Homo sapiens: one gene and its partners. The protein of the gene in region 1 purifies or fractionates together with the protein of each later gene. This does not show direct contact. Each region holds a gene or a part of one and is shown in the gene's direction. Other genes may lie near its edges.

Region 1 (3,500 bases):
AAAAATTAGCCACGCATGGTGGCAGGCACCTGTAATCCCCGCTACTCAGGAGGCTGGGGCGGAAGAATCACTAGAACCCGGGAGGCAGAGGTTGCAGTGAGCCAAGATCACACCACTGCATTCCAGCCTGGATGACAAAGCGAGACTCCATCTCAAAAAAAAGGAAAGAAAATGAGCTTCCTCAATCTTGCCAGAAGCCCTTCACAGCTAGTGCTTTTCAACCCATTTACCAGATGAGGAAACTGAGGCTCAAAGAGGCTAACAGCCTCTCCCAGGTGACCAGGAGAGCAGGGATTCCAATTCACGGCCCCAATGACACAGAGACAGCACTGTGTTTCCTCGACAGCAGAGGGTTTTTCAGATTCCCAGAAGCAGCCACTCATTTGATGAACAAATGCTTATGAGCAGGAGCTACATGCTGAGCCCTACGCTGGGCACTGGGGCTCTGTGCTGAGCGAAACATAAAAGCCCTTGACCCAGGGAAGTGGTGCTCAGAGGAGGAAGACAGTGAACAGGAGGGGAGGTCAGGAGCCGAGGAGGGCGAGGGAAGACCTCACTGCCAGGGAAAGCAAAGACCTAGAGGCACTGGGAGCGAGGCAGGTGTGTAACTGGAGGAAGAGCCTTCCAGGTGGAGGTGGCAGCAAGGGCAAAGGCTCTGAGGCCAGAGCGGGCCAGGAGTCCAAAGCAGCTGGAGCTGAGTGAGGAGGAGGTTGGGGGGTGAGAGGACATGAGGCAGACAGATGGGGAGGAGAACAGTGAGGAATGGGGATGGGAAAGAAGCAGGAGGGAAGGCAGGTGTTGTGGACTTTGGCTTTATCCTGAGTAAGATGGACCCATAGACCCCCTGCTCCCCTCCCCTCCCTTCCCCTCCCCTTCCCTCCCCTCCCCTCTCCTTCCTTCCTTCCTTCGTTTTTCTACACAGGCAGGTGTTGTGGACTTTGGCTTTATCCTGAGTAAGATGGAGCCATGGACTCCTCCCCTCCCCTCCCCTCCCCTCGCCTCCTCTCCCCTCCCCTCCCCTCCTTTCCCCTCCCCTCCCCTCCTCTCCCCTCCCCACCTCCCTCCTTCCTTCCTTCATTTTTCTAGACAGGCAGGTATTGTGGACTTTGGCTTTATCCTGGGTACGATGGAGCCATGGACTTCCTTCCCTTCCTTCTTTCCCTCCCTCCCTCCCTCCCTCCCTCCCTTCCTTCCTTCCTTCCTTTCTTTGTTTCTCTAGACAGGGTCTCACTCTGTTGCCCAGTTTGGAGTGCAGTGGCACAATCATAGCTCATTGCCACCTCGAACTCTTCATCTCAAATGATCCTCCCACCTCAGCCTCCCAATGAGCTGGGACTACAAGTGTGCATCACCATGTGCAGCTAATTTTTGTATTTTTTGTAGAGATGGAGTCTCACTATGGTGCCCAGGCTGGTCTCCAACTCCTGGCCTCAAGTGAGCCTCCCACCTCAGCCTCCCAAAGTGTTGGAATTACAGGCATGAGCCACCACACCTGCCCTCTTATTTTCTTATCCTGTATTTAATTATCTGGCATAACAATTTAACCAAAGCCCTAAAAAGTCACCCAACTAGTTTTAAAAATTGTGTCTGGGCCGGGCTCGGTGGCTCACGCCTGTAATCCCAGCAGTTTGGGAGGCCGAGGCAGGTGGATCACAAGGTCAGGAGATCGAGACCTTCCTGGCTAACACGGTGAAATCCCGTCTTTACTAAAAAACAAAAAATTAACCAGGCGTGGTGGCGGGCGCCTGTAGTCCCAGCTACTCGGGAGGCTGAGGCAGGAGAATGGCGTGAACCCGGGAGGCGCAGCTTGCAGTGAGCAGAGATCGCGCCACTGCACTCCAGCCTGGGCGACAGAGCAAGACTCTGTCTCAAAAAAAAAAAAAAATTGTGTCTGTTTCCCCATTAGTTTGTCATTAACTAAGACATTTTCTCCCCAAATTTCTTTTTTTTTTTTTTTTTGAGACGGAGTCTTGCTCAGTTGCCCAGGCTGGAGTGCAGTGGTGCGATCTCGGCTCACTGCAAGCTCCGCCTCCCGGGTTCACGCCATTCTCCTGCCTCAGCCTCCCGAGTAGCTGGGACTACAGGCACCTGCCACCACGCCTGGTTAATTTTTTTTTTTGTATTTTTAGTAGAGATGGGGTTTCGCCGTGTTAGCCAGGATGGTCTCGATCTCCTGACCTCGTGATCCGCCCACCTCGGCTTCCCAAAGTGCTGAGATTACAGGCATGAGCCACCGTGCCCGGCCCCCAAATTTCTTACAGGAAATTTCTAAAGTAGACTAGAGTCCGCAGTATTTGAGCCCTGCATACCTCTCACCTGATTTCAACAACATCAGCTGCAGACTGCCCGACATTGTCTCCTCTATCCCCCTTCTCTCATACTTTTTCTTCTGGGTATTTTGAAGCACATTCTAGATGCCAAGTCACTTGCCTGTAAATACTGGAGCACACATTTCTCTGAGTGATAAGCACATTGTTTTAAAGCAGTCAGGAGGTTGTGCAATGTCATCCATCTCCCAGCAGCAGAGTTCACACATCCACACGCAACCTCCTGCTGCTTTATAGATGAAGGTGCCAGGTGAGGACATGAAAAGAATTTGCATTAAACATCAACTGACAAGCTTTTTTTTTTCTCCTGCCCTCTGTGCCGTTGGCACAACCCACCAAATTCAATCAAGTTCTTCTATATCTTCCAATACCCAGTCTGTGTCAAATGTCTCTGATTATCTGAGAACATCGTTTTATGTTGTTTGTTTTATTTTAAGAGACAGGGTCTCACTCTGTTGCCCAGGCTGGAGTGTAATGGCACAATCTCGGCTCATTGCAACCTCTGCCTCCTGGGTTCAAGCTATTCTCCTATCTCATCCTCCTGAGTAGCTGGGATTACAGGCACCCATCACCATGCCCAGCTAATTTTTGTATTTTTGCATTTTTAGTAGATGGGGTTTCACCATATTGGTCAGGCTGGTCTTGAACTCCTGACCTCAGGTGATCCACCCGTCTCAACCTCCCAAAGTGTTGGGATTACAGGCGTAAGCCACTGCACCCACCCTTGTTTGTTTTGTTTTAAGAGACAGGGTTTTGCTCTGTTGCCCAGGCAGGAATGCAGTGGTGCGATCATAGCTCGCTGAGGCCTCCAACTACTGGGCTCAAACGATCCTCCAACCTCAGCCTCCCAAATAGCTAGGACTAACACTACCACTAGTAGTAACTATGCTTAACTAATTTTTTTATTTTTATTTTTTGTAGCGACGGGGTCTCACTGTGTTGCCCAGGCTGATCTTGAACTCCAGGGTTCAAGCAATCTTCCCATCTCAGCCTCCCAAAGTGCTGGGATTACAGGTGTGAGCCACCAATGCCCAGCCCTAATTTTTGTATTTTTAGTAGAGAAGGGGTTTCACCATGTTGGCCAGGCTGGTCTCGAACTCCTGACTCAGGTGATCGCCCCCTCGGCCTCCCAAAGTGCTGGGATTATAGGCGTGAGCCACCACGCCTCGCCTG
Region 2 (3,500 bases), on another chromosome or scaffold:
TAGTAGAGACGGGGTTTCACCATGTTGGCCAGGCTGATCTTGAACTCCTGACCTCAGGTGATCCACCTGCCTCGGCCTCCCAAAGTCCTGGGATTACAGGCATGAGCCATCCACGCCTGGCCTAATTTTTGTATTTTTTTTTTTAGTAGAGACAGGGTTTCACCCTGTTGGCCAGGCTGGTCTTGAACTCCTGGCCTCAAGTGATCTGCCCACCTTGGCCTCCCAAAGTGCTGGGATTACAGGTGTGAGCCACCGCACCCGGCCAGCATTGGCAATTTTTGACATCTCTATGGTGACCGAATGAATTTTTTTCTTACAAAAAAAATTTTAGTTTTGTAAGAAACTCCCAAACTGCCTTCCAAAATGTGTGTCCCATTTGCATCCCCACTAGCAAGGAATGAGAGTTCTTGTTGCTCCACATCCACCCCAGCATTTAGTGGCGTCAGTGTTCTAGCTTTTAGCCATTCTGATAGATGCATGGTATTTCATTGTTGTTTTAGTTGGCATTTCCCTGATGACATATGATGTTGAGCGTCTGTTCATATGCTTATTTGCTCTCTGTATATTTTCTCTGGTGAGTTGTCTGTTCAGGACTTTTGACCATTTTTAAGTAAGTCTTCATGTTTCCGTATTGTTGAGTTTTAAGAGTTCTTCGTATATTTTGGGTAGCAATCCTTTATTGGATAGGTCTTTTACAGATATTTTCTTCCAGTTTGTGGCTGGTCCTCTTCTTTTCACATTGTCTTTTGCAAAGCATACATTTTTAATTTTAATGAAGTCCAGCTTCTTTCTTTCATGGATTGTACCTTTGGTATTGTATCTAAAAAGTCATCACCAAATTCAAGGTCATCTACACTTGCTCCTAGGTTGCCTTCTAGGAGTTTATTGTTTTGTGTTTTACATTAGGTCTGTAATTCACTCTACATTAGTTTTTGGGAAAGGTGTAAGGTCTGTGTCTAGATTCCTTCTTTGCATGTGGATATTCAGTTGTTCTAGAACCATTTGTTAAAAAGATAATATGTATATTGCCGTTGCATCTCCATTGTATTGCGTTTGCTTCTGTGTCAAAAATCAGTTGACTGTTTATGGGGGTCTATTTTTGCCAAATGCATTTTTAATTCAGCCTAAAAATTTTAGTCCATTGTATCTTGCATAAATATTCATACTGTAGAATATTTGAATTGTATTTTTTCAGCATCCTCACTGAGGGAAAATGTTACAAATGTATGTCCTCACATTTGATGTAGACCATTGCATTTGGGGTTTAAGTTGTTAAATGGTTCAGGCTAGGCATGGTGGCTTACACCTATAATCCCAGCACTTTGGGAGGCTGAGGTGGGTACATCACTTGAGGTTGGGAGTTGGAGACCAGCCTGGCCAACATGGTGAAACCCCATCTCTACTAAAAATACAAAGATTAGCCAGGCATGGTGGGGGGCACCTGTAATCCCAGCTACTCGGGAGGCTGAGGCAGGGAGAATTGCTTGAACCTGGGAGGCAGAGGTTCAGTGATAGATACTACACCACAGCAGAGCAAGACTCCGTCTCAAAAAAAAATAATAATAATGGTTCAAAGCTGACTTTAAAAAGGGATGGCTAGAGACCAGGGACGGTGACACACACTTGTAATTCCAGCACTTTGGGAGGCCAAGGCAGGAGGATTGCTTGAGCCCAGGAGTTTAAGACCAGTCTAGGGAACATAGTGAGACCCTGTCTCCACAAAAAAATAAAAATAAAGAGATTGCTGGAATGTTTAACATTAACCAAATTTATTTCAGTTTTTACTACTGTGAAAGTTTTGTTGTTGTTGTTTTTTGTTTTGAGACAGGGTCTCGCTCTGTTGCTCTGAGTGCTGCCAGAGTGCAGTGGTGCAGTAATACCTCATTGCAGCCTTAACCTCTTGGACTCAAGCAATCCTCCTGCCTCAGCCTCCCAAGTAATTAGGAATATAGGCACATGCTACCAGGCCTGGCCTTACAGTTATTTTTTGTAGAAACAGGGTTCTCTCTATGTTGCCCAGGCTGATGTTGAACTCCTGGGCTCTAGCAATCCTCCCACCTTGGCCTCCCAAAGTGTTGAGATTACAGCCATGAACCATTTTGCCTGGCCCTTTTTTTTTTTTTAAACATAGCATTACATTGTATGAGGTATTATAAGTAATCTAGAGATTACTTGAAGTATATGGGAGTATGTGAGTAGCGTATCAAAGTTGTATTTATTGAGTGGCTGAAGGTGAGGTATTATTTTGTGGATTTGTCTTTAAAATCAACATTGAAGTATTTTATATTTTTTTAAATTATGAGATAGCATTACATTTCAGTTAAATTACAATGCTTTTAACTAGGTAGATTTCCTCTGCGGCATTATGATTTTAATCCAGTGGTTGATGAGTATGACTATATATGTTTTTCAATCCCTGATCAAACATTAAGTCCTTATTAGAAATCAGTGAAATGTGGCCAGGTGCAGTGGCCCATGCCTATAATCCCACACTTTGGGAGGCTGAGGCGGGTGGATCACCTAAGGTCAGGAGTTTGAGAGCAGCCTTGCCAACATGCGAAACCCCATCTCTACTAAAAATAAAAAAATTAGCCAGGCCTGGTGGCTTGCGCCTGTAATCCCAGCTACTCGGGAGGCTAAGGCAGGAGAATCACTTGAACTGGGGAGATGGAGATTGCAGTGAGCTGAGATTGTGCCAGTGCACTCCAGCCTGGGTGACAGAGTGATGATCTGTCTCAAAAAAAAAAAAAAAAAAAAAAACTATGAAACTGGAGGAGGAGAAGCCAAAGGAAAACTAGAGTATGAGACAAGCAATTCTGAGTATCAGTTCCCAGGAAGCTGCCTCAAGTTGTTTTTTGAAAATATTAATAACAGATTTTATATTAAAAGCAATCATTGTCACTCCTCTCAGAGGAGTGGTGGCCAGTGCCAGTGCCAGTGATGGACATGTGTGTGGATTCTGCTTCTCATCCTCAGGTCTGAGCTCTTTCTACTCGGAGCTGATGAAAGGACTGGGTGCAGGGGGGCGCCTCTGGGAGCTCCTGGAGAGAGAGCCCAAGCTGCCTTTTAACGGTGGGTCTGAAAATTGTTTCTTTGCTAGGATTAACAAATGTGGCTTTGAACAATGAGACCAGCTCTTCCCCTGTCTGCAAGGGAGTGAGGGATGAGCCACAGTAAGGATGTGGCTCCTGCTGCATGGCGGGCCGGGTGAGGAGGTGGTCAGGTTTTCTATGAGAGGGGGTGGGACAGCTGCTGGGGCACTGTTGTGGGCCAGGGTGTCCCTGGATGCATGGGCTGGCCACATAGTGTGCTGCCCTCTGTTCCCCTCCCTCCATCTGGGTGTTACCGCAAAGGGCAGGATGGAAGTCAGTGTGGCCCAGGGCTGTGTCCCAGCTAGTTTACCAAATTGATCTTCCCTAGTGATTCTGACATCTCTGTGGAGGGCTAGGGTGGGAATAAGGGAGGAGGAATCAGACATAAGAAAATATCTAAGTTTCTTG
Region 3 (4,020 bases), on another chromosome or scaffold:
AAGTGGGAGAGGGAGAGGGTGTGGCAGGGGTGGTCTGTGTGGCAAGAGGTAGAGAGAAAATAGTGGATCAGAGCAGGAGGGGGAGGAGCAGGGAAATGAAGCTCCTGTCCTAGGCACTGAAGTGTGGAGTGGGGCTGTGGCTAGAAAGGGGAGAGAAGATGCCTTTCTGGCCTTGCATGAGTCGTGGCAGAAAGGAGGAATCGCGAAGAGGAGCCGGCCATACCCAGCACACACCCCGAAGCCAAGCTGCTCATTACTAGAAAGGCTTATTCCCCCACAAGAAGTTAGTGCGGGCCAGCTAAGTGCCTACTATGTGTGCAGTATAGAAAGAAGTGCCCTGGAGAACCAGGTCGCGGGAGGCGGAGCCAGTCAACAGGGCTTCACCGAGGGGGCGAATTCTGTACACGGTTGTGAAGGAGGGTGGCTGTGCACGCGTGCAGGCTCCGAGTGCAGAAGACGAGGCAGGCCAGGGAGGAGGCGGAAGGAGGCGGAGCCTGAGCCGGAGGAGGGAGGAGGAGGGAGGAGGAGGAGGGAGAGCCGAAGCCGCGGAGGGTGGGAGGTGTGAATGGTGGACGGGTGAGGGGAGTGCCAGAGGCAGAAAAGGGAAGGAGGCGAGGAGGAGTAGTCGTGGCCCGAGGGCGTGTGGTGGGGCGAGAGCTGAACTGGACGGGAGGAGGGAGGCAGTGGCGGTGGCAGCGGGGAGGGGGAGGAGAGAGGGAGGGGAAGAAGGAGGAAGCGAGCGCGGCTGCTGCAGGGGGAGGAAGACGGGGAGGAGGAGCCGTGCGCCGCGGCGGCGGCCGCCAGGGGAACCGAGCGCCCGGCGCGGAGAGCGCGGGAGCGGAGCAGTAGCCCGATCCGGGGCCGCGGGCCGAGCTGCCGGTGAGTGAAGCCCCGAGGGGCGCGGCGGCCGGTCCCCGGGGCTGGGCGGGAGGCGCGGGAGGTTGCGGCGCCGGGGAGGAGGGAGGGGGGCCGGCTTTAGTCCAGGGGCCGGCTTTAGTCCAGCCCCCGGCTGGCCCGGCCTCCCGCCTTCCCTCTGGCTTCCTCCCTCCGCTGCCTGCGCGAGGGGGGCAGGTCCCGGGCGGGCCGCGGGCTGGGGGTGGTGCTGCCCGGAGGGCGGGCGTCTAGGGCCGGAGGGTGGAGCTGGGGGTTCGGGGGTGTACCCGGGGGCGGGAGGCTGGACAAGGACGGCTCTAAATTGGCTGGAGGGGCCCGTCGGCGGCGAAGTTGCTAGCTGGGGGCAGAGACGGCCACGCGGTTGCAGGAGTAAGAGATCCCTCTGTGGCGAGTGCGTGAGACGAGGAGTCCGGCGTCCCTGCCATCCCCGTCGCCCTCCCCGCCTGCTCGGCCCCGCTAGCTCCTCTCCTTGCCTCCGCGTGTCCCCTAGCTCTGACCCCTTTTGGCTCCCGGTTCGCTGCCGCAGCACTGCCGGGTCTCCTTGGCCCCCGCCCTGACCCTTTCGGCCTCCGGCTTCCCCTGACCCCTGCTTGCTTCGCCACTGCCCCGTTCCCGTTTTCTTCCCTCGCTAGTTACCCCTCCCGCTTCCTAATTCCCGGTGCAATTGCCTCTTTGAGACCTCTTTTTTTTTTTTTTCCTCTCCTTCCTTTTAGATTGGCCAACGGCTCCTTTCAACCCTGCCTCGTTGGTGGCCACTGGAGAAGCGCGGGGGGCTCCCCCAGACAGCCGTGGGGACAAGTTAGAGCCAGCACTTTACCCCGGGCCTTGCGTGTAGCTTCCCCTCCCCTACTCTCGGTGCCCTGGTGTCTGGAGGGGGGTTGTGGGGGTGTGCCCGCCTTACATGGTCCACCACCCGGGCAACCCTCTGGGCTTGTGTTCCATCTCACTCTTGCTTCCTGTACTGTGGTCAAGGGGAACCACTGCATCATGTCCCGGTATAGCTACCAGAGTCTCCTGGACTGGCTCTATGGGGGCGTGGACCCCAGTTTTGCAGGCAATGGGGGCCCCGACTGTGCTGCCTTCCTCTCTTGGCAGCAGCGGCTGCTGGAAAGTGTGGTGGTCCTGACCCTGGCTCTGTTGGAGATCCTGGTGGCCCTGCGGCACATCCTGAGGCAGACGAAGGAGGACGGTAGGGGTAGCCCTGGCAGCCAGCCAGAGCAGGTGACCCAGCGGCCAGAGGAAGGCAAGGAGAGCCTGAGCAAGAATCTGCTCTTAGTAGCCCTGTGCCTGACCTTCGGGGTGGAGGTGGGCTTTAAGTTCGCCACCAAGACCGTCATCTACCTGCTCAACCCCTGTCACCTGGTCACCATGATGCATGTGAGTCTGTTGACTTTTTCCTGGGCATCCTAAGTGATAAGAGTCATTTATGTGCTCAGGACACTCCATAGTGTACAGCACCTCATCCCGGCGGGCAGGGGGACCTTTAAAAATGATTTTCCAACGAGTGGCTGCCTTTGTGCCGATTTCAGGTTTGGCTTTCTTTCACCTTTGCACAGTGCGTCAGCCCCACAGTGGAGGTGAGGAACCTTGTGCCTGAACCCTAGGAACGACTGGCACTCACCCTGGCTGCCCCTCCCTTCCAGCCCAGCCCAACCCTGCCGTGCCCTGGGCTTTCACAAGCAGGAATTCCAGCCCCAGCCAGGTGCCCTTTCTGAATCACATCAGTGGACCATGACCCAGCTCCCTTGCCTTCTGTGGTAGTTAATTTCCCAGGGGCCTGGTGACACTCTTTCCTGGAGGTGGTCGCATAAACTTTCTCATCTACACTGTGGTACTTTGGGGAAATACTTTTACAGGTTTCTCTTAATGACTCTTTCATTTGGGAGTGTATGCTCTTAGAGTGAGGTCTGCCTTTGCATTTTGAGGCATTGGAGCAGCACCAAGCTCCTACTAAATGAGTTCTGAAGCAGGTCCCCAGGCTGACATGTGTACTTTGGGCTGGTGATCACTATGGTGAGAGGGTATTTCTTTTTTTGCAAACCTCTCCATCCTATTACTGTCATTCTGTCTCCTATGGTCATAGTCCAAGGGTGCTTAGGAAGCTGATTTCTTTACCTCATCGACTTCCACCCATTAGCGGTGCTAAGGAAAACAAATGGGATTGAAAAGGCAAGTTGCCAGATACATAAAAATAATCTGGGTGAGGACCAAGAGTGAGACTGTCTGTATTCAGCCTGTGTGGAGAGATGTTCTAAAGCTATAAAATCATGGAGGAGGAGGAAGAGGAGACTGGGAGAGCAATCAGTCTTTTTTAGATTTCAGGCTGTGGAAAACCGGGTGTGTTTTATTCAGGGGCAGTTTTGAAACCTGTCATTAGCATCTTTACTGCCTTTATGTTTGTAGAAGGTTATTCTTTGGAGACTTGTGACAGCCTAGCTTGGGGCAGGAGGTTGAGATTATTATCTCCATTTTACAGGCCTGGAGGGGTTTAGGAATGGCAGGTCATTTGCTTGCAGCCAGAAGATGAATTAGTGCCTGGGTTAGAAAGCAAACTCATCCACCTTGAGGTTGCAAGCTGTCAACCCCAAAGTGAGGGTGGCAGTGGGTGGTGGGGCAGTCCTGTGGGAAGACTCAGGCAGATGAGCACCACACTGTCTACCCATGGCTTGGATACTTGCTTGCACTGTGTTCCTAGGAACTCATTTGATTGCAGGCTTCTGGATGTGGTGAATGACCCCAGCCCCTTCCCTTCTTGCAGATATGGTAAGAAGGTATGGATAACTTTGGAATAAAGTGGCTGTTTTTGATTGGGTGGCTGTAAGCATCGGGGCTGGAGTGGGCAGCATTTTTTAAGAGAGGGCTTCTTGGGAAGTGATGCCATTCACAGGAAGTCCAGGGCTGTCCCAGCTAGACCTTCTGTGTAAATTTGAGCCAGTCTTCTTTCTTTCTTTTTTTATGAATGGGCTTTTTGTTAATGATAGGAAACAACGCATCTCAGCCGATGCTGTGTGAGGCTGTCGGGACAGGAGTGCTTTTTTAGGATGGCAGGTGGTGAGGGTCAAAGGGTGCATCTTCTACAAAGTGGTCTTGAGGCCTCTGGCAATCACATATCTAGAAGGTCGACAA
Region 4 (3,500 bases), on another chromosome or scaffold:
TTTTTTTTTTTTTTTTTTTTTTTTTTTTTGAGATGGAGTTTCACGTTTGTTGCCCGGGCTGGAGTGCAGTGGTACCATCTTGGCTCACTGCAGCCTTTCACCTCCCGGGTTCAAGTGACAATTCTCTGGCCTCAGCCTCCCAAGCAGCTGAGATTACAGGCGCCAGCCACCACGCCTGGCTAATTATTTGTATTTTTAGTAGAGACGGGGTTTCATCGTGTTGGCCAGGCTGATTCTGAATTCCTGACCTCAGTTGATCACCCACCTTGGCCTCCCAAAGTGCTGGGATTACAGTCATAAGCCACTGCGCCTGGCCCAGACGTGTATTATATTGTGTTTATTTGATAAATGCACTGTTGAACATGCAGTATATGTTCAGATAGAAAAAGGAAGTGCCAGAATAACCCAGCTTTAAAAAGGTCTTCAGAAGAAAGGAAGTCTCACTTTTTAAAATAAACAAATGAGAAAGTGTTTTTGAAGAGGAGCAGAAAATGGAGCAACTTGATTCCAGAGCACTCGCTCCCCTCGTGATGTTGCCGGCCACACGCACCTGCGACCTCGTGCAGAAACGTGCAGCAGTGCTTTCCAGCTGGTGGCAGGTGATGTACATGGTACGGAGACAGAGGGACGCCATGGTGGCAGGAGCAGCCGTGGTGGAGAGCACAGGGCGACACTCGGCTTGGCCTGGATGACCAGTCATGACGAGCTAAAAGTCCTGCCGTTTTCTGCTCACACGTCGTTCCCACGTCTGCACATTGAGTGGTGATGTTAGCCGGTGCTGGCTGAACTCTGTTCTCTGGCGGAGAGACTGCCAGTTTGCAGAGTGGACAGTTCCAGACCTCTGTGAAAGGGGGATCATGACCGTGGCACGTGTTGCTAGCACCCTCACCGCGTCCAGACTCCCTCTTGAGTGCCTTTCTGAAATGCTGCTCCTCGGCGCTTTCCCCATTTTACAGATGAGGAAACTGAGCACAGAGGTCTCAGAGGCCGGATTCAAGCCTTATAGCTTGAGCTGCATGGCCCATGATCTTATCCTCTGTGCTGTCCAGCCTGCTTGGGATGCAGACGTTGCGTGTAAAGTGCCTCCATAGTGCCCGGGACTCGGTTGGGTATTCAGTGTATGCTAACTCTTTGTATTAAAGTATGCAGAGGTATCTGCTTGTGTCAGTTTGAGGATGCTAAAACCTGAACATGTTTAAGACACATTCAGAAACCAGCTCATCTCTTCCTTTGATACATTGCCCAGCTGTCGGCCCTGGTGTGTTGGGTGTGTCAGTGACCCATGCAGTGAATCCAGAATTCACGATGTTCAGGCTGTGTCATAGTGCAATCTGTGATGCTAAAAAGTGCACAGGTTCCATAGCCAAGTTACAAAGACGCTCACCTCAGGATTCGATAAAGAGATAGTCAGGCGCTCTTTTGTTATCTTCGCATCTGCCTTCCTCAACAATGCAGTTCCAGGCCAATCATAACTATAAATGGAGGAAGTTCCCCTGAAGTAGTTGAGGAGAGGAACACTGCCTCAGAAAAGGCAGGAAGGAAATAACACCAGACCGGCTAACACTTGTTTCTGGTGGCAAGAACACAGGAAGGTAATTTTTTACTTTGCCCAGCTGTTCTGGTGTGGGGGGATTAGCAGTCACAGGAGGCTGGGTTGGCAGGTTTCCCCTTGCTCCTGATTTGCAGCCTTGTCGTGCGGCCTTAGGCACACTCTCCGTCGACACTGTCCCCTTCACCACCGCATGTGTGTCTGCAGGCCACGCAGGGATTTTCCTGAGTACTGGGGAGCTACCTTTTCTAGTTTCCTCAGGGAACCTCCTCCTTTTACCTTACAGAAGAGAGGGATGGGCTGCTAGGGGCAGGTGGGGGGCTGCAGACAGCCCACCTCCAGAGCCCCCGGTGGCGATGTATCTGACTTCAGGGAGCTTCTTCAGTGGTTTTGAAAGCAAGATGCTTGTGCATTTTGGACTACAGAGACAACATTTGTTACTTTTTTTATGACTCCAGTTAAACCTTAGTGGGAACCAGATTAAATAGTAAAGTCTTGAAAAAATACCTGTAGCAGCGCAGCTTACCTGCCGCTTTCCTTTTGTTTTCTCCAGGTAATATTAACGGCTGCTATTTGAACTATTACTTTTTTCTTCTGGCTGCTATTCAAGGAGCTACCCTCCTGCTTTTCCTCATTATTTCTGTGAAATATGACCATCATCGAGACCATCAGCGATCAAGAGCCAATGGCGTGCCCACCAGCAGGAGGGCCTGACCTTCCTGAGGCCATGTGCGGTTTCTGAGGCTGACATGTCAGTAACTGACTGGGGTGCACTGAGAACAGGCAAGACTTTAAATTCCCATAAAATGTCTGACTTCACTGAAACTTGCATGTTGCCTGGATTGATTTCTTCTTTCCCTCTATCCAAAGGAGCTTGGTAAGTGCCTTACTGCAGCGTGTCTCCTGGCACGCTGGGCCCTCCGGGAGGAGAGCTGCAGATTTCGAGTATGTCGCTTGTCATTCAAGGTCTCTGTGAATCCTCTAGCTGGGTTCCCTTTTTTACAGAAACTCACAAATGGAGATTGCAAAGTCTTGGGGAACTCCACGTGTTAGTTGGCATCCCAGTTTCTTAAACAAATAGTATCACCTGCTTCCCATAGCCATATCTCACTGTAAAAAAAAAATTAATAAACTGTTACTTATATTTAAGAAAGTGAGGATTTTTTTTTTTTTAAAGATAAAAGCATGGTCAGATGCTGCAAGGATTTTACATAAATGCCATATTTATGGTTTCCTTCCTGAGAACAATCTTGCTCTTGCCATGTTCTTTGATTTAGGCTGGTAGTAAACACATTTCATCTGCTGCTTCAAAAAGTACTTACTTTTTAAACCATCAACATTACTTTTCTTTCTTAAGGCAAGGCATGCATAAGAGTCATTTGAGACCATGTGTCCCATCTCAAGCCACAGAGCAACTCACGGGGTACTTCACACCTTACCTAGTCAGAGTGCTTATATATAGCTTTATTTTGGTACGATTGAGACTAAAGACTGATCATGGTTGTATGTAAGGAAAACATTCTTTTGAACAGAAATAGTGTAATTAAAAATAATTGAAAGTGTTAAATGTGAACTTGAGCTGTTTGACCAGTCACATTTTTGTATTGTTACTGTACGTGTATCTGGGGCTTCTCCGTTTGTTAATACTTTTTCTGTATTTGTTGCTGTATTTTTGGCATAACTTTATTATAAAAAGCATCTCAAATGCGAAATCCATGAGCCGGTTCTTTGCGTGGTTTGTCCTCAGTCGCTGCTGGTGTGGCGTGTGGATTCCTCCCCTGTCGTGTAGAAGGCGCAGAGCTTCCCGAGTCGGGAACTGAGGGGAGGGTGGGGAAGTGCGCTCCTGCACAGCCCTCGGATGCTCCGGCGCGTCTCCTGATTCTGCAGCCTCCTCTGCATGGAAGGGTAGTTTCAGCATTTGGAGAAGACAAAAAACAAACCAAAAAACCCT
Region 5 (3,500 bases), on another chromosome or scaffold:
TAAAAGTACTTGCTGGGTTACACTAAATGAAACCTAAAAAACAAATAGATAAATAATAAAGGTTACACACAGCAGAAGCTTTGTTAACAAATTAACTTATATTAATAGTTGCTGCTGGGAAAACAAGCTGCTTGGTGACTTCCCTAAAGGGTGTCCCACGCATCTGGCGAATGAACAGACAGAGCTCCTGCTCCCGAGTGTCCTGGGAGGCACGTGGGCATGCCGCGTGGGTGGTCTGGGTGCTGCAGCGTGAGTTGTCCTGGGTGTGGAGTGTCAGTGCCTGCAGACCCACACTGCCTCCTCCTTCAGGGCTCACTGGCAGTTTTCTTTCCACCGCTTCAGTTTCCTACTTGAAGTCAGGTTTAAAAAGGAGAAGAATTGCACATTCCTCCTCAGTTTCTTAGAAACTTACCTTTGTGCCTGAGTCATTTCTAGTCCCTCTGGACCTGAGTCATATCTGTTCGCTGCTTTGTCAACCTTGTGCCCAGTTTAAGCTTTCGTAGTTGCTCCTTGTATGTGTGTTTTCAGGGTGTGGAGCGTTTTCTTTAAAAACGTCATTGCAAGCCATTACAGAAGAGGAAAGTCACATAGCTACAGAAGACATGGAAAAACAGATTTAGTGCCTGAAGTTTCTAGGAAAACTGGCAGTGCTGACAGCACTTATGATCACGCCCTAAGTGGAATCATCACCTGTGTGTCTCCTGCAGGCTGCTGTTGTCAGGAGGCAGCCTCTCCACCCCCTGCCCCGGCTGCCATTGTGGCTTCTACCCACCATTTTTCCTCCTAGATCTGTTTGGGGAGCACCAGTTCCTGAGCAGGGGCTCTGGCTGGTGGGCCTGTGCATCACCTGACCTAGAAGCATGTGGACAACTGAGAGTGGAGAGGCAGTTCCTGCAAGGAGCAAGGCGTGCAGTGTAGATGAAGAACCAGAAGCCTGGGTTCACTGCATCTCATCTGCCTTGCCTGGCTAGGCTGAAAGCTCCAGGGGCAGACTGAGCCTGCCCAGGCTCTCCAGGAACAGCTGATGATTCCTTGGGTGTCTTGCTTAGTGCTCCTGGCTTGACTTGACCTGGTCTTCTTGGCTCAGAAGCCCCTGCTTATTCGTGGGTTTCTCCAGGGGGCCGGGGAGGAGGTCGCACAGCCTGAGATGATGTATGCGTGCACTTGTCGTATCCCAGGGTTGTATTTCTAGATAATTTATCAGCAAAATGGAGGGGCTGGATGACTCTGCATCCCAGGCATGAACTTCATAACCCAGCAGTGGAAGGATGGTCCCAGAGTGGATGGGGACCAGGGTGGTTACAGTGTGTATGGCAGCTCCCGTGCATAGAAAAGTGACATCGGGCCAGGCGTGGTGGCTCACGCCTGCAATCCCAGCACTTTGGGAGCCTGAGGTGGGCGTATCACGAGATCAGGAGTTCAAGACCAGCCCGGCCAGCATGGTGAAACCCCATCTCTACTAAAGATAAAAAAAATTAGCCAGGCGTGTGGCGCACGCCTGTAATCCCAGCTACTCATGAGGCTGAGGCAGGAGAATTGCTTGAACCCGGGAGGCAGAGGTTGCAGTGAGCTGAGATCGCGCCATTGCACTCCAGCCTGGGCGACAGGGCGAGACTCTGTCTCCAAAAAAAAGTGACATCGAATACCATGAGATGCCTGCTGTTGCCTCTCAGCATCTCGGTGGGAGGACAGCACTGCCAGCGGCTCTGTCTGTTGCTGCAGGGGTGGCCCACATCTGCTGTGTCCACAGTGGTAGCCGCTCACCCACGTGACTGCCAAGCACTTGAAAGGTGGCTCATGAGACTGAAGAACTGAAGTCTTTATTTAATTCAAATGTAAGCAGCCATATGCGGTGACTGGCTACTGTAAGGCGCTGAGCGGTCACAGAGGTTTTCATTTCAGTCTTTCCATTCACACTCAAGTCTCCAGCCTTATCCAAAAGTTCATTGATGCCAAATCTTAGACCACATGGTTCGTGCGGGGAAAGTGGCTTCCAGGAGGCTGATGACCACAGTGGATAATACACCAAACACCAGAACATGGGACGCTTCTTTCTTTCTTTCCTTCTTTTCTTTCTTTTCTTTTCTTTCTTTCTTTCTCTTTCTTTCTTTCTTTTTCTTTCTTCTTTCTTTCTTTCTTTCTTTCTTTCTTTCTTTCTTTCTTTCTTTCTTTCCTTTCTTTCCTTTCTTTCCTTTCTTCCCTCCTTCCCTTCTTTATTTCTCTCTCTCTCCTTCCTTCCTTCCCTTCCTTCTTTCTTTTCTTTTTCTTTTCTTTCTTTTCTTTTTTTTGAGATGGAATCTCACTCTTGTCACCCCGGCTGGAGTGCAATGGCATGATCTCGGCTCACTGCATCCCTCCCGTCCTGGGTTCAAGCGATTCTCCTGCCTCAGACTCCCAAGCAGCTGGGATTATAGGCGTGCGCCACCACCCCCAGCTAATTTTTGTATTTTTATTTCTTTTTCTTTTTTTTTCTTTTTGAGATGGAGTCTCACTCTCCCAGGCTGGAGTGCAGCGGTGTGATCTCAGCTCACTGCAACGTTAGGATCACTGCAACCTCCGGCTCACTGCAACCTCCACCTCCTGGGTTCAAGCAATTCTCCTCTCTCAGTCTCTCAAGTAGCTGGGAGTACAGGCGCCCACCACCACGCCCAGCTAATTTTTGTATTTTTAGTAGAGACAGGGTTTCACCATGCTGGCCAGGCTGATCTCGAACTCCTGACCTCAGGTGATCTGCCCGCCTTGGCCTCCCACAGTGCTGGGATTACAGGCGTGAGCCACCGCGCCTTGCTTGTTTTTCACTTATTTTCTTTTTCTTACTCTCTGCAGGTCTCCTTTTTCTCTAGTACACATGTGAACCCGGCACAGGAACTGGATAGAAAACCTCTCGGCAAGGCCACATAGTCATGCACAGAACAGATGTTTGCTTAGCGCCTGCCCAAGGCCTCACCCTTAGTGAACTTGGGACAGTCCAAGAGTGTCAAAAGCACTGCCCTGAATGCTTTAGATCTAGTCTTTTCTTTGATCCTGAGAATGCCTTTGGAAGGTGTAAACAGCGGCCAGCTCCACAGGGACCAGCCTGCAGAAGGTGGGCTGCGAATACACCTGACCACAGCATCTTCCCTGTGTGTGTGGGCCTGCGTGTGGGTGGGGTGCAGGAGGAAGGGTGACAGTGCATGGGGCGAGAGTGCTTTCCCTTGTTTTTGGCCTGAGCAGGGGGTGCTGGGAGTTGCCATTCGTGGAGGTAGAGGCAAGTAGAGAAAACCAGGAGTTCCCTTCTGTGCAGGTGAATCTTGAGAGAACATTGTCTCGGTCAGGTTCCTAGCAGGACAGACGCACACTCAAGTGAGGATTGTAGGGGGCCTTGTTTGCAGAGGGACTCATTACAAAGGAGGGGCCAGCCCAGGGCCTGCTGCAGAGTGCAGGAGCAGGCCGCCCATGTCCCTCTAGCAGGAATGTGTCAAGCAGGCCACATGGAGGAGTGGAGCCTGCACAGGGCACAT
Region 6 (3,002 bases), on another chromosome or scaffold:
AATGAAAAAAGTCTACCCTTAAACCCTCAGATCAGTCTTTCCAAAGAATTACTCTGTTTGCATTGTTGTGATTGACATTTGTGAAGTCCCAAGAAAAGATCTGTTTTCATGACAGTAGAAAATAGAAGTTTGCAAATTATTTCTTTACTCAAAGAGGATTAAAAGAGAACTCTAATTTTAATATTAAAGCTTTCTTTTCTTTCAGGGAATAAATTTACATGACTTTTTATATTATGGAGGTTTATTTTTAAATCATCACCTTTCTCATATTTTTTAGAGGTATTGTCTTATCTCTTCCATAATCTTGGATATTACAAAACCCTAAATAGGCAATCAATAAATGGTTAACTGGCTATGTGTTCATAAACATTTTAAACAGCAATTGGGTTTGTAAGGCTGTTTTGTTGTTTGCTTCTGAAGACCCCTTTTTTTAATCGTTCAAGGAACCTTCTCCAGATAAATTATCTAGTTGGTCTACTCTTAGTCAGAATTTATGCATGGGTGTATATATGTGTATATATAGATAAGTATACACATAAGTATATATGCATTAATTTTTATAAAATAGAGATGTAAAGTTTACTTACATTTCATAATATGGAAATATGGTTATGAGAAATGGAAAATGCTAGATGGAAAACCTCAAATACCTTTACAGGTTAAAAATATCTTTACTAAATTTTCCCATGAAAACATTTTGTGATAAAATGACAAGGGACTAAAATGAAGATCATTGATACAATAGAGTTACTTTCCTTGTTACAATGCAATTGTCTTATAAGTCATTATTCATTTTAAGGAAAATCAAAAAAATTAGATCTTACTAAAAATGTAGCATTTGATTTTAAGTAGCAAGATGCAATTTTGTGTTCCCTTTTTCTTTGTTACATTAACATAATATAGTAGATAGAGGGTTTATTGTATAGACATACACAAAAAAATAGTATTCTTAGGCCAAATTCACACATATCTCCTCACTAAGTAGTTCAATTAGATAATTTCTGGAAAAACATGTTTTTGACATTAATTGCTATCCAAAACTATATTTTAAAGCAGTCTTATTGGAGGTGTCCTTAACATGATGTAACTATAAATTTGATGCAGAAAGGTTTTACATGCTGTGGTTAAATAGCTTTAGAAGACATTTTTAAGTCACCACCAGCCTTTATTCTTAGAAAACAATTTATTCTAAATGATGATGCATATAGAAAACCAGTGTATTCTTTTATTTCTTTTAATACTGGTGGCAAAATAGGACGTGTCTGGAAAACCATAAGGCTACTTGGGATACTGTCCCATTAGCATTGCTGTTTCCATGACAAACCCTATTTTCAGATGGTTTGATTTGCCTATTTTTTTTTTAAACCAGCTATAAATTGGGGTCAATTTCCCCCCTCACAGTGTACTTAATTTAGCTTTTGGAGTAAATATATAAGTAGTATGAAAGACTTCTGAAGCTCTTCTTTCTAAAAAAGCAGTTTTCCACTTAAGCTTTGTGGGGACAGAGAGTCATATTTTTAATTTCAGAGCCAGCCAGTGTCAAACACGTGCAAAAGAGCCGGGCCGGATTTTTTCAGCTTGTCCTATGGTAGTCACTTGTCAGCCTGAGTTTACTGGCCTGGTCCTTTTGTCTCCACTGTAAGTACTGAAGCCTTCTGGTGTAGTTGTATCACCTTAATGTCCAGCATTTAACTAGGAAAGGAGACTACAATGAAGAGTTGGTGGCCAATTAAGAAAAATAATAGACTACATCATAAATCATTTCAGGACTTGAGTGGCCGCAGATCACTGTCCCTGATAGCATGTTTCAACCTTGGTATACATTTTTTTTAAGATGCATATTTACTGTGTGTGCTTTTGCTTTCTAATCCATCTATTGACTATTGGCCACAATTTATATAATGCACATGCAATTAATTGAAACCTGTGTCATGGCATTGGATATCTCTGATTCATTTCTTATTATAATAGTCTGTGTAACTGGGGCCTGAGAGATTAGAAGCAAAATGTAGTCGTACGTATGTCTAGAGGTGGACGCTGGTGATATTGTCATTGAATACTTTGCAGAATACACTAATGTCAAAGGCTTGCAGGATTAATGTGTAGGAACCAACATAAGACATGGAATATATATAAGAATTATCTAGTTACATGACTAAAAAGGAATTGCAATACTATCTTAAATTGAAGGCTTTTATTTCAATGTCCTTACATTTAAAATGGGATCTTACAAGGGAAGTACCAAAAAAGTAAAGTTTATTTTGATGACTCTCAAGATATATATGTTTGTTTTGAATGTTGGCAGATGCCAATAGCCCTTAACATTTGAAAAATGGTACTTGAACATCAATTATGTCTCAGAGTTCCCTTAAACTTTTTGGGCTTAAATATTTTTATTCATTTTGGTCATACCTTTGACAATGGATATGTTAAACTTTAACAATTATAGTGACAAAACAGCTTGCTTAGAACCTGGAAATTAAAACACAATTTCTAGAGTAATTTTTCTAAGTTGTATCATGTTTTGTGGTGACAAATGTCTCTACTCCATTACAGAATCAAGTTGCTATTCAAATATAATACTTCCTCTGGGGATCTTTGTTTATAGGTTGGTTTGGGACCCTAATAACAGGTCAAACAAAAGGGTTTCTCAAAGAAATTTTTCTAATAATATATAAGTTCAAATACAATTTATAAGTACATGTACACAATGAACATATAATAAGTATTCTGTGGGTCATCGTCAGTTTTATGAGTCAAGCAGATCCTTAAATTGCTTGAAAGAATAAGATACAATTTTCCAAAAGAGATTAAGTAAACTATTTCATTGGTATTCTAAAGAGGTGTATTTTTGAATGATAAAATGTAAATAACACTGCATTTTCTTGAGGTATTATTAATACACTAGTTGAATGGCATATTTGTGTGACTAGTAATTCTAAAAGCAAAGTATTAAAATAGCAATGATTTGTACATTTTACACACACATTTTTTAAAAGATG
Region 7 (3,500 bases), on another chromosome or scaffold:
ACCGCCTCTGTCCGGGACATGCCGGGGGACCCCCAGGGACCCCTGCCCTCCTCACCGCCTCTGTCCGTGAATGCAGGGGGACCCCCAGGGACCCCTGCCCTCCTCACCGCCTCTGTCCGTGAATGCAGGGGGACCCCCAGGGACCCCTGCCCTCCTCACCGCCTCTGTCCATGAATGCAGGGGGACCCCCAGGGACCCCTGCCCTCCTCACCGCCTCTGTCTGTGAATACCCAAGCTTGACAGGGTCAGTGAAAACAGAGGCCACCACGCAGGAGCAGCTCAACCCCATGCTAATTCTGTCACCAAACCCCTCTCTGAGAGCTCTCCCCTGTGCACCACACCGGCCACTGGCATTTCACTCTGTCTTCCCCAAGCACCAAAGTGTCTGGCAGTGGCACAGGCTGGGACCCGGGGCGGGGGCTGATTGTGGTGACTCTGTGTGTGTGTGTCGTGGGTTTCTCCTCCCTGACCAGCTGTGCGTCCCAGTGGCAGGGCTGTTTCCATGCCGCTTCTTTTTCCCACTGGCCCAGCCAAAGCCCACCCCAGTGGGAGTGGGGTTCCGTGCCCTCTCATGGGCAGGGTCCTCAGAGGAAATTAGGGGAGACAGAGAGGGGGTGGGGGGTCATTACCGCGGGTGCTGACGAGCAGGATCTTCATGCTGAATGTGGGGTCTCCTGCTGGGCCCCAGGTCTCTTTCCCCCCACCAGTGGACGGGCATACATCAGCGGGTATGAAATTTCCCAGGACATGGTTCAGATCCGGAAGAGCCTGGGCCTGTGCCCGCAGCACGACATCCTGTTTGACAACTTGACAGTCGCAGAGCACCTTTATTTCTACGCCCAGGTGAGTTGGGGGCCAGGGGTGTGCAGGGGTGTTTCCACTGATGTGCTCGAGTTTCTGGGGCAGTCTTCCGAGGAGCTAAACTGGAGGAAGGGAGCCAGGAGGGCAGGAGCCAGGGTTCTGAGTCCAGCTACGTCAAGGAGAGGTTCCTCTCACCAGAACCTCGCTGGCCAGGGTCGGCCTCCCGCCAGGAGCCCTGCATCTCCCCAGCTACGTCAAGGAGAGGTTCCTCTTACCAGAAACTCGCTGGCCGTGGTCGGCCTCCCGCCAGGAGCCCTGCATCTCCCCAGCTACGTCAAGGAGAGGTTCCTCTCACCAGAACCTTGCTGGCCGTGGTCGGCCTCCCGCCAGGAGCCCTGCATCTCCCCAGCTACGTCAAGGAGAGGTTCCTCTCACCAGAACCTCGCTGGCCAGGGTCGGCCTCCCGCCAGGAGCCCTGCATCTCCCTGCGTCCCCTGTCGTTGCAGCTGAAGGGCCTGTCACGTCAGAAGTGCCCTGAAGAAGTCAAGCAGATGCTGCACATCATCGGCCTGGAGGACAAGTGGAACTCACGGAGCCGCTTCCTGAGCGGGGGCATGAGGCGCAAGCTCTCCATCGGCATCGCCCTCATCGCAGGCTCCAAGGTGTGGCGGTGGGACTGGAGGCAGTGGGTTCCCCTCCTGCTCGACCTGGGATGGCCCTTCCGCCATGGCCCGGGCACCTTGGCCCTTGACACCCCAGACAAGGCCATCACCATCCTTGGAGGACTCAAGCCGGCTCCGCGAACCCCTCGATGGGGCCTACCGCAAGGCCAGCCTGGGCCCGGGGTGTGGCTCTACCAGCGTCGCGAGACTGTGTCTCTCCCTCCAGGTGCTGATACTGGACGAGCCCACCTCGGGCATGGACGCCATCTCCAGGAGGGCCATCTGGGATCTTCTTCAGCGGCAGAAAAGTGACCGCACCATCGTGCTGACCACCCACTTCATGGACGAGGCTGACCTGCTGGGAGACCGCATCGCCATCATGGCCAAGGGGGAGCTGCAGTGCTGCGGGTCCTCGCTGTTCCTCAAGCAGAAATACGGTGAGCGGTGGGGCCAGCCCGCGACAGGGTCGGTGTCCTGGCTGCCGTGCTGAGGGAATGGCTGCTACCTTCATGAAGGGCCCTCAGATCAGGCAGGGGTGGCCTTTTCTAGACTTCCTGTCTGTTGCCTCTGGGTGGAGAGCCCAACCAGGCAGGGGGGCTTGTGAGAGGGAAGAGGCAGGAAATGGAGCTGAAAGTCTCAATTTGGTTAGGATGTGGTTCAGCCATGACCAGAAGAACAGAGGCCAAGCCTAGTGCCACTAGGAGCAGCACTGCCCTTGGAGAGGCCAACACACGCACCAACATGGCAGCTCCCACGTGAGAGCAGCTCACAGCATGGCCAGGGCCAGCAGGGGCTGACAGGATCTGGGCCCAGACCTCTGACTGTACTGTGCAACTACGGCTTCCCTTTCAAGGTCACCTCCTGGTCCAGCACGATCTGGGTGTGCCAGCGTCCCCCACATTCCAACGGGGTGGAGCAAAGACATAGGAGCCCTCCTCCCCTCAGGACACCCCCCAAGTTCACGTCCCACTTCTGCCCCCTAGTGACTGAGTGGCAACCCAGTGTGGTCAGCAGTAGGCTGGAGGGGATGGCCTTTGTCCTGGGCAGCCACATGCTCAGCCAAGATACCAGGGTTTTGTTACCAAGAGGGAGGACAGCAGGCGTTAGGAGATGAGGAACCATCCACCACGGCCTCTGAGAGTTTCACTAGCCACTTCCTGCCCCACTGCCCAGTTGGCAGAGCCATTGTTCTTCCTGGGCCTGGCATCCTTGTCTCTAAAGAGGACATGGGGCCAGGCGTGGTGGCTCACCGCCTATAATCCCAGCACTTTGGGAGGCCAAGGCAGGCAGATCACTTGAGGTCAGGAGTTCAAGACCAGCCTGGCCAACATGGTAAAACTCTGTCTCTACTAAAATACAAAAACTTAACCAGGTATGGTGGTGCATGCCTGTAATCCCAGCTACTTGGGGAGGCTGAGGCAGGAGAATAAGTACTTGAACCAAGGAGGGAGAAGTTACAGTGAGCCAAGATTGTGCAGCTGCACTCCAGCCTGGGTGACAGAGTGAGACTTGTCTCAAAAAAAAAAAAAAGGACATGGAATTCCATCTCCTGCACGGTGACGTTGGGAAAGAGGTGAGATGCATCTCTGATAGTGCCGTGCAGTGCGGTCTTGCAGCCGGTAGCTCTTGCTCCTGCTCCTGCTGACAGTCCCTTCCTAGAACCACACCATAACCATCAGTGTTAACCCCACAAGACAGAAGCCCTCACACGTGGTCCGTCGCTGCTGATGATATCCTTCCCTGGTGCTTGTATAGCTGGGGGGAGACCCCACCTTCCAGCAGGTGCCCCTGACAGTGCTCAGCACCCTAGATCCCCAGCAGCTCTTCCCAGCAGGAGCGGGAGGTGACACCCTTGGGACAGCACAGGGAGCTCCAAGACACATTCATTCTGCTTCAGCTGCCCACCTCCGGTTCTCTAGCCTCCTTCCCACCAGCTTGCCTGGTGTGAGCCCTAGAGACCCCGGGGTGGGCATGAAGAGACCTGGGGGATCAGCCAAAGATCTCACACGTGGCCCTGTATTCCAGGTGCCGGCTATC

The links.
Region 2: the proteins of UPK1A (region 1) and ABCB10 purify together in Homo sapiens (affinity purification with mass spectrometry; one large-scale study listed by BioGRID and IntAct). This does not show direct contact.
Region 3: the proteins of UPK1A (region 1) and TMEM164 purify together in Homo sapiens (affinity purification with mass spectrometry; one large-scale study listed by BioGRID and IntAct). This does not show direct contact.
Region 4: the proteins of UPK1A (region 1) and SLC15A4 purify together in Homo sapiens (affinity purification with mass spectrometry; one large-scale study listed by BioGRID and IntAct). This does not show direct contact.
Region 5: the proteins of UPK1A (region 1) and IMPA2 purify together in Homo sapiens (affinity purification with mass spectrometry; one large-scale study listed by BioGRID and IntAct). This does not show direct contact.
Region 6: the proteins of UPK1A (region 1) and FZD1 purify together in Homo sapiens (affinity purification with mass spectrometry; one large-scale study listed by BioGRID and IntAct). This does not show direct contact.
Region 7: the proteins of UPK1A (region 1) and ABCA3 purify together in Homo sapiens (affinity purification with mass spectrometry; one large-scale study listed by BioGRID and IntAct). This does not show direct contact.

Annotation. Positions count from the first base shown.
Region 1 is NC_000019.10:35,669,517-35,673,016, forward strand, and holds part of UPK1A (uroplakin-1a), read left to right. Parts: intron 1-3,500. UniProt on the Homo sapiens protein: Component of the asymmetric unit membrane (AUM); a highly specialized biomembrane elaborated by terminally differentiated urothelial cells.
Region 2 is NC_000001.11:229,531,208-229,534,707, reverse strand, and holds part of ABCB10 (ATP-binding cassette sub-family B member 10, mitochondrial), read left to right. Parts: intron 1-2,976; coding exon 2,977-3,072; intron 3,073-3,500.
Region 3 is NC_000023.11:110,001,894-110,005,913, forward strand, and holds the start of TMEM164 (transmembrane protein 164), read left to right. Parts: upstream 1-1,220; 5' UTR 1,221-1,285; intron 1,286-1,607; 5' UTR 1,608-1,881; coding exon 1,882-2,271; intron 2,272-4,020.
Region 4 is NC_000012.12:128,792,959-128,796,458, reverse strand, and holds the end of SLC15A4 (solute carrier family 15 member 4), read left to right. Parts: exon of another isoform or gene 1-1,592; intron 1,593-2,102; coding exon 2,103-2,263; 3' UTR 2,264-3,265; downstream 3,266-3,500. UniProt on the Homo sapiens protein: Proton-coupled amino-acid transporter that mediates the transmembrane transport of L-histidine and some di- and tripeptides from inside the lysosome to the cytosol, and plays a key role in innate immune response.
Region 5 is NC_000018.10:12,005,507-12,009,006, forward strand, and holds part of IMPA2 (inositol monophosphatase 2), read left to right. Parts: intron 1-2,831; exon of another isoform or gene 2,832-2,903; coding exon of another isoform or gene 2,904-3,085; intron 3,086-3,500. UniProt on the Homo sapiens protein: Phosphatase that can use myo-inositol monophosphates, myo-inositol 1,4-diphosphate, scyllo-inositol-1,4-diphosphate, glucose-1-phosphate, beta-glycerophosphate and 2'-AMP as substrates in vitro.
Region 6 is NC_000007.14:91,268,825-91,271,826, forward strand, and holds the end of FZD1 (frizzled-1), read left to right. Parts: 3' UTR 1-2,502; downstream 2,503-3,002. UniProt on the Homo sapiens protein: Receptor for Wnt proteins. Activated by WNT3A, WNT3, WNT1 and to a lesser extent WNT2, but apparently not by WNT4, WNT5A, WNT5B, WNT6, WNT7A or WNT7B. Contradictory results showing activation by WNT7B have been described for mouse.
Region 7 is NC_000016.10:2,295,729-2,299,228, reverse strand, and holds part of ABCA3 (phospholipid-transporting ATPase ABCA3), read left to right. Parts: intron 1-688; coding exon 689-843; intron 844-1,307; coding exon 1,308-1,463; intron 1,464-1,689; coding exon 1,690-1,900; intron 1,901-3,488; coding exon 3,489-3,500. UniProt on the Homo sapiens protein: Catalyzes the ATP-dependent transport of phospholipids such as phosphatidylcholine and phosphoglycerol from the cytoplasm into the lumen side of lamellar bodies, in turn participates in the lamellar bodies biogenesis and homeostasis of pulmonary surfactant.